Homo sapiens: one gene and its partner. The protein of the gene in region 1 interacts with the protein of each later gene in a pairwise test. Each region holds a gene or a part of one and is shown on either strand. Other genes may lie near its edges.

Region 1 (3,971 bases):
CTCAGGTGATGCACCCGCCTCAGCCTCCCAAAGTGCTGGGATTACAGGTGTGAGCCACCCCACCTATCCGACTTTTCCCCTTTCTCGTTCCTCTGCTTTGTATGTTTTTTGAGAGGAGCACCGCGAAGCCCTGACCCCTCCTCCCGGCGCCCCGCCGCGGCCACCTGTCTCCGCTCCGCCCCGCCCGCTCACAGGTCTCCGCGCAGCCTCGCTCACCTGTGTCCGCCTCCGCCCCCTCCCCCGACCGCTCACCTGTGCCCGCCCCGCCCCCACCCTGCCCGCTCACCAGTTTCCACCCCGCCCCCTCCCCGCCCACCGGTGTCCGCCCCGCCCACCGGTGCCCGCCCCGCCCACCGGTGTCCGCCCCGCCCACCGGTGTCCGCCCCGCCCACCTGTCTTCGCCCCGCCCCCTGTCTCCGCCCCGCCCCCCTGTCTCCGCCCCGCCCCGCCTGCTCACTTGTGTCCGCCCCCGCCCCGCCAGCCCACCTGTCCCCGCCCCGCCCGCTCACCTGTGTGCGCACTGCACCCCGTGGCTGCCTGCCGGGCAGGGCAGCTCGCAGCGCGCTCCGCGGAAGCCGGGCGGGCAGGTGCACTCGCCGGAGGCGGCGCTGCAGCGGCCCCGCACACACTCGCACTGCTGCTGGCATTCGGGACCCCACCAGCCCGGCCGGCAGGCGCAGCGGCCGGAGTCCTGCTCGCACGGGGAGCCGTGGCAGTTGCAGCGGAAGCTGCAGCGGCGCCCCCACCAGCCCGGCTTGCACACGCAGGCGCCCGTGGCCTGCTCGCAGCGCGCCGCCGCGGTGTTGCACTGGCACGGGCGGCGGCACGTGGACGACCACCAGCCGGGTTCGCAGTGGCACACGCCGGTCGCGGGGTCGCAGCGCCCGTGGGGGCCGCAGGCGCACGGGAACTCGCAGCGGGCTCCCCAGCGGTCGGCCTGGCACTGGCACGCGCCCGTGGCTGGCTCGCACTGGCCGTGCGGGTGGCAGGGGCAGCTCTCACGGCAGTCGGGGCCCCAGTACTGGCCCGGGCAGCCTGCGGGGGTGGGGACGGGAGGGGTCAGCGGGCTCAGGGCCGCGCGCAGACCCTTACCCTGCGTCCCCTTCCTCAAGGAAAAGGGGCGCTGGGCCCATCCTCCAAGAGCCGGGGACAGACCCTCAGAACATCCGGCAGCCTGTCCTGGGCAACACTCACTTCCTGCTCCGCTCTGACCTACAGAAAACCCTTAGCCATTAGTGGGAGGCTCAGCCTGCCACTTCACATTCCAGAACACACTCAGAGATCCTGAGTGGGCAGGGGACTTGCCCAGAGCGTGGCACCGAGGTTGGTGGGCCTTCCTCCATGCCTGCTCCTCCCTGCCGAGATGGATCTCTGCTGGGCTGGAGGAGAGCTGGCTTTCTCCTGATCTCAGGCCTGGATACTGCCCGCCAGGGTGTCGGGAGAAGCCACCTTTCCCCTAGTGATTCCTTGATTCCTGATGCCCACCCTCTGGCTCTCCTGCTTCCCAACCCCTTTCCCTTCCCTCTCTTTCTGCCAGAGAGGGCAGAGAGCCCAGCCAGGGGCCCCCTTCCATCCACTGCCCATGTATAAGGTATATGTGGGAAAGGCAAGTAATACACTCATTTTACAATGAAGGGGAATCACAGGTTTTCTGAGAAGTGGAAGAGGAAGATGCTCAGGTGGGCAGTGCTTTGTGGATGTGGGTAAAAACCCGGTGACTCAGGTCATCTCCCGGGAGTGTGTGTCACTTCCTGTCTCTGGACCGCAATTCCTCAGTGAAGCTGGGGGGGATTCTGGCCCTGCTGTCCTGAGGCTGCATGGCTACCTGCCTCGCCTGCTCCCACACCACTGCCCCCGTACCCAGCTCTGCCCAGCAACTTCATCTGGCCCTTGAGACTCACGGGAGCTGCAGTGGGCCCCAAAGAATCCAGGCTTGCATCGACAGAGGCCCGGCTTCACACACACCTCGTCTTTCTGGCAGGCGTCCGGCCCCTCACAGATGGCTGAAAGACACCCCACCCAGGTTGGAAAGACGGGAGCAGGACCAGGGGACACCCCTGCCCTCTCACTGGCTCCAGGGGCCATGCCTCCTCAAGAGGTGCCCCTTCAGGCCTGGGGGTGCGTCACAGGAGAAACCCTGACTCCTGGTATCAGGAGGGGCAGGCCCCATGGGGTAGGAAGGAAGGGTTGTCACTGGGCTACGGCCTCCCTTCTCCTTGGCTGAGGGTCTGTCCTGGCTACTCACGGATGGTGCATTCTTGATCCTTCTGCCTCCAGCCTGCGCAGCACTGCAGCTCAGCAGAGGGGCTGTGGGGCAAAAAGGGGTCAGCCGGACATGGTGGGGGGTGCAGCCTGGCCCTGAGGAAGGTGGATCACTGTCTCTGGCTGCAGTGGGGGAGGCTGCCTTAGCCCCCTGGGGAGGCCTAATGGATCTTTACAGCTAGGGTCCCCAGCCCCTCCCCTCTCCTTCCCTGACCCTTCCACCATCTGCCCTGGCTGGCCACTACCTGCCAGACCGCCATCAGCAGTCCCTTCCTTTCAGCCTAAGCCCCCTTCCTAGTCTCCTCCTTCCCCTAACGGCCTCAACACCGGTTCAGCCACCCGCATCAGACTCCCACGAGACCCACCTGCTGGCCACACGCATCAGACTCCCACGAGACCCACCTGCTGGCCACACAGACGTGCTGCCCTTTGGGGTCCAGCTCGGACCCCTGAGTCCCCCGAGTCCAGAGCAGCAGCAGCGGGAGCAGCAGCCCCAGCCCCATGGCAGGCAGCTCGGTGGGAGCGCTCGGGTTCGTCTGGCCCCCACAGCTCCCAACCCCCTCCCTGCTTCCTCTCAGGGCTTTTCCTGAGGAAACCAGGCCGGAGGGGCGGGCTGCCACGAGGCACCTCCCTGAGAGGGAGGGGGTGGCTGGAAAGACTGACACTCAAAAAAAGAAAGGGAAAGAAAGGCAATGGCAGGGCTGACTGGCCTGGGCCTGGAAGGGCCAGAAGAATGAAGTTGCAGGTCCCTGGGTGCCGGGGCCAGGGAAGGGGGTGGACTGAGGCTGGGAGCCACGGCTTTCCATCAGGCCACACTCCCAAAGCAAGGCCTGAGCTGCAAGAAGCCACCCCACCCAGTGACTGAGCAAGGAGACCAGCGAGGACCCCTCAGCCTGCCTCTGCTCCTGGCAGGGTTGGGAGGTGGCACAGACATGGACAGACAGGCGAGGAACAGTTTCTGTGTATTACGGGCAGTTCTTTATTACATGAGCTCAGGCCGTCTGCACAAAGCCCTGGGAGCTAGGCAGTCAGCTCTCATTTCATGGATGGGGAAACTGAGACTCAGAGAGGCACTCTTATATCTGGCCCCAGAGGCTCGGTACAGAGACGTAGAGAGGGAGGCGGGCTGAGACCCCGTCCTGCCCTGATGCAGGCCAGGATTGGGGCAGACCCCTGGCGAGGGCTGTGAAGGCGGGAGCCCTGTCCTCATTTGAGGCCACACATCCTTCCACAGCCAGACCCCTAAGTCAGGCCTCTGGGGCGGCTGAGGCCCCCAGACAAAGGTGTTCGTGGAGGGCAGAACAGGGCGGATCAGGAGCTGGAGACTGTGGTTGGGCCTCCTCTTCTCCCCCTAGCTTGCTGGGTGCAGGGCTGCTGGTCTCATCCTCAGAGGATTCAGCTTTACCCCGATACCATAGGCCAAAGCTGGAGAGAGACAGCCAGAGGCACTTTGAGCCAGGAAGCCAGAGAGGTCAAGGATATGGGTGAGGGCAGGGGATGGTGAGAAAAGGGGAGAGGGGGAAGAAAGGGCAGCCTGAGGGAGTGTGAAGGTGATGGGGGCCAGGGCCAGAGAAGCAGGAGGGGACGGTGTGCTTAGAGCCAAGCACAGCAGGGTGACGGGCAGAGAAGCGGGAAAGGGGATCCTGAGAAGGACCAGCCAGGGCCCTTCCTCCCTCCCCACACTCTTGCCTTTCCCCTTTCCCCAACAT
Region 2 (3,500 bases), on another chromosome or scaffold:
ATTTTTAGTAGAGACAGAGTTTCACCATGTTGACCAGGCTGGTCTCGAACTCCTGACCTCATGATTCACCCACCTCAGCCTCCCAGAGTGTTGGGATTATAGGTGTGAGCCACTGTGCCTAGACTAGTTCTTTGATTTTAAGGCAAAGTTCTTTAGTAAAGTTCCTAATCATTATGTAATGGGAAGGGTTGATTGAACCTAGGAGGTCTGTCTTTCAGAAACCTAGATTGAAGCCCAGGCTCTGCGTGAAAAAGTGATGGTTGGAGGAAGTCATGGACCTGCTTGGGGGTCCTCCTGACCTGTGAACTAGCATCTTAGCATTCTCTTGGAGCTTGTTAGAAATGTATATTCTCAGGTTTCACCCAATAACTACTATACCAGAATCATAGTAGGGTGAGGCCTAGCAAACTGCTTTAAAAGACCTCCAGAGGATTCTGATTTATGCCAAAGCTTGAGACACCACCTATAACAAAAGTTCATGGGTTTAGTTGGCAAAATAGCACAGTAATTGAGAAACTGTGCTCGTAGATACAGATTTATGTCCAGCTAGTTACTGACTGAAGAAGAGACCAAGAAGAGCGACTGAATGGCATGTGCAATAGGCTCCCTCTCCTCTCCCCTCTCCTCCTGGTCCCTTATTTTTATGGTTCACACAAGACTGTAAATGTGTTTGAAGCCCCAGTATCTTTCCTGTTAGTTTCTTTGACAGCAGAAAAATCTTTTGGATGTGTGAAGTTCCCACGCCTCCATCACCCTAGGCCCCTCTTGATCTGTTCGGCAACCTAATCACAGCAGCTCTGATCTGGTGATGGCTTCAGAGAGTATGCAGGGGAAATGAGTCAGAAGATGATGTCTGCAGAGACAAAGTCCCTGAACCGGCCCCCTCTGCACACCTGAGAGCTCCTTGGCCTCCACGGTTTACTCCTTGCTTTGTGCACTTGAAGAATGCCTTCTCAGCAGGCCCCTCATGCTGGAAACAAAGGGCTGGGGCCACATCCCCTTTGTACCATGGGCAGATGGGCCACTTCATGGCCAATGTAGGGGGCAAGAACTGCCAATATATTGGTGTGGTTAAAAGTCTGATTTTTGGAGTCGGATGTTCTGGGATCAAATCCTGACCTGCCACTCAGTAGCTGAGGGATTTGTGGCAATTTTGTTTCACCTCTCTGAGTCCTAGTAGACTTCATATGCAAAATAGAGTTACTGTGAGGACTAAATGGGATACTGTATACACAGCACCCAGGACACACAAATGTTCAATAAATGGCAGCTGGTGTTGCAGGTATTGTTAGGATCTGTTCAGAGGGTCTTATCTACTCTTTGTTGACTTTTTTTTTTTTTCATTTTCAGAGGGGCTGTGGAGAGTGGGGCAGTTACCAGGCCTCAATGTGAGGGCAGGCCTAAGATGTCCCTAGGATGGTTCTTCCTTCTGGAGGCCACCCAGTACAGCAGTTTGGCCCCATCATCTTCACAAAGGAGCACGCAATGTCGACAGGAGGGAGGACAGTGGGGGGACACACATCAGCTTGTGCTGGATTAAGGGACTGCAGAGTTAAACTAGGGGCTGCTTCAGGGCCTGAGCTCTGTTACTCAGACTTTTCTTCAGGATACATAACAAGGTCCACAGTCCATGTGAAAGGCACTGATGTCAAAATCACAGTCAGTCTGACAGTGGGTAGACATTCTCCCTGGACAGACGTGGCAGAGCAGGATAAATTTCATGGAGCATAGCCCTTACCTGAAAAGGAGCCCGTCACCAGCCATGGCATAAATGACCCTCGGCATCGGGAAGAGGGACCCCAGCAAGCTGACTGTCAGTCCTGCAACCGACCCAATGGCCACTACGAATTTGGCAGCATAGAACCCATGAGCCACAAACATCTCCATGAGTGGGGATTCCGTGTCAATGGTATAATATGGCACCATCAGAGTTAAGATCACGCTCACCTGTTAAAACAAGAGAAGACAGGGCTGGAGGTACAGGGGAAGAACAGCATGGATAGAGGCCCCACGGGAGAGGAAAGAGCCCTGCCCCTGGAGGCAGAGGCTTGCATGGCAGTTTGGATCCATTCACTTGCTGGCATGTGCCTTTACTGTAGACCAGTCATCTGGCCTCTAGGCCTTGCTCAATATTATTTCCCCACATGTGAATTTAGTGGACTGGGCCAGAAACTCTCTATCTCTCTGGTCCTTTGATATCTGAGGAGTAAGTCTGCAGGTATTTCAGCCCCATGAGCAGAGCTATGCTAACAGTTCAGTGGAGAGCAGATATTTCTGGAAGGAAGGAGCTGCAGCCAATGCCCTGCAACCAGGGCCTGGCAGGGACCATGAGCACCCTGCCCACGTGGACAAGACTCTCATTTCTCTTCTGCTTTCTGGTCCTACAGGGTTTTATCCGTACTCCCTCTCACTGTGAAACACCAGAGATAAAATCTCCAAAGATAAGTGCTTAAGAGGTCTATAGCCTATTAACTGTTGGGACCCAGATAAGGACTCATATTTCTATTTCCTTTCTCTAGCTTAGTCCTAGGATCCAGGCAGGCCAACAGACAAATGATGGCATCAGGACAGAATCAAGTCCTACTGATTATATGGCTGTCAGACAACTATGGCTTTGCTTAATCAGGAATCATTTACTGTGTGTGCTATAAGGGTCCACCCCCAGAGAAGAGGGAGATGCGAGGGAGGAGCAGAAGAGGAAATAGAGAGCAGAATGTCTTTGCTATTCCCTCTACCCTACCACCCCTCCTTCAACACTCTGCCTACGGGGAGAAATCAGGGTATGGACAGGACAAAGCCACTGGCATGCATGTGCATCGGGGAGGTGATAAGCACTTAACTGGGGGCTCCCAGGACCTACTCCCCTCGCATATTATTGATCTGCCTAACATCCCTGCCTTCAGAATTGGCCATAGGCAATGGAGCCACCAGTCATATGGCCAGATATGGGGGGCCCCCCAGGCCTATGAAGGCCAAATTGACATCAAGAAGGGATTCAAAGCCTGAAGGAAAGAGGGTGGTCACATGTAGACCATTTCTTTGCCTATTCCTCTGGAGCCAAGATCCTCCAGTGGAGCCAAGGGCCACCAAGGAGGACAGGATGTCCTAGCAAAGCCCAGCAACCTTGTTCTTCTCATGGTGGGGGAGGGGCTGCCTGCTGACCAGTACAAGACCAAACAGCTCCTAGGGCGTGTTTAAGGCCTGTGCAGTATGAAAGAGAATGTTTCCTAGTAACATAACCACTTGCAATATTTCCTCTGGGGATGGGGCAGGGTGGGCTGGAGGAGAGTGGGATTGAGCCTCCTCCAGCTTCAGGGAGTCTCCTGAGTTAGATCAGGATGGGTAAAAAGTTGGTGGATCATAGAAGTACTCTGTGGTCTATAAAGTGCTATTCTAAGGAGGGCACTGTGATGATTGACTTTATTGTGTGTGATAAGGGCCCACTCCTGGAGGAAGGGCGGGAATGAAGGAGGAGTAGAAGGGGAAATGCAGAGTGTCCT

Evidence for each region.
Region 2: the proteins of SCARF1 (region 1) and SLC7A14 interact in binary tests that used the Homo sapiens proteins (3 or more experiments, as listed by UniProt).

The regions. Positions count from the first base shown.
Region 1 is NC_000017.11:1,642,933-1,646,903, forward strand, and holds the start of SCARF1 (scavenger receptor class F member 1 isoform 1 precursor), read right to left. Parts: upstream 2,801-3,971; 5' UTR 2,766-2,800; coding exon 2,665-2,765; exon of another isoform or gene 2,628-2,664; intron 2,308-2,627; coding exon 2,246-2,307; intron 2,004-2,245; coding exon 1,902-2,003; intron 1,036-1,901; coding exon 510-1,035; intron 1-509. Other genes in the region: RILP (rab-interacting lysosomal protein), read right to left, coding at 3,510-3,687. UniProt on the Homo sapiens protein: Mediates the binding and degradation of acetylated low density lipoprotein (Ac-LDL). Mediates heterophilic interactions, suggesting a function as adhesion protein. Plays a role in the regulation of neurite-like outgrowth.
Region 2 is NC_000003.12:170,481,576-170,485,075, forward strand, and holds part of SLC7A14 (solute carrier family 7 member 14), read right to left. Parts: intron 1,948-3,500; coding exon 1,739-1,947; intron 1-1,738. UniProt on the Homo sapiens protein: Imports 4-aminobutanoate (GABA) into lysosomes. May act as a GABA sensor that regulates mTORC2-dependent INS signaling and gluconeogenesis. The transport mechanism and substrate selectivity remain to be elucidated.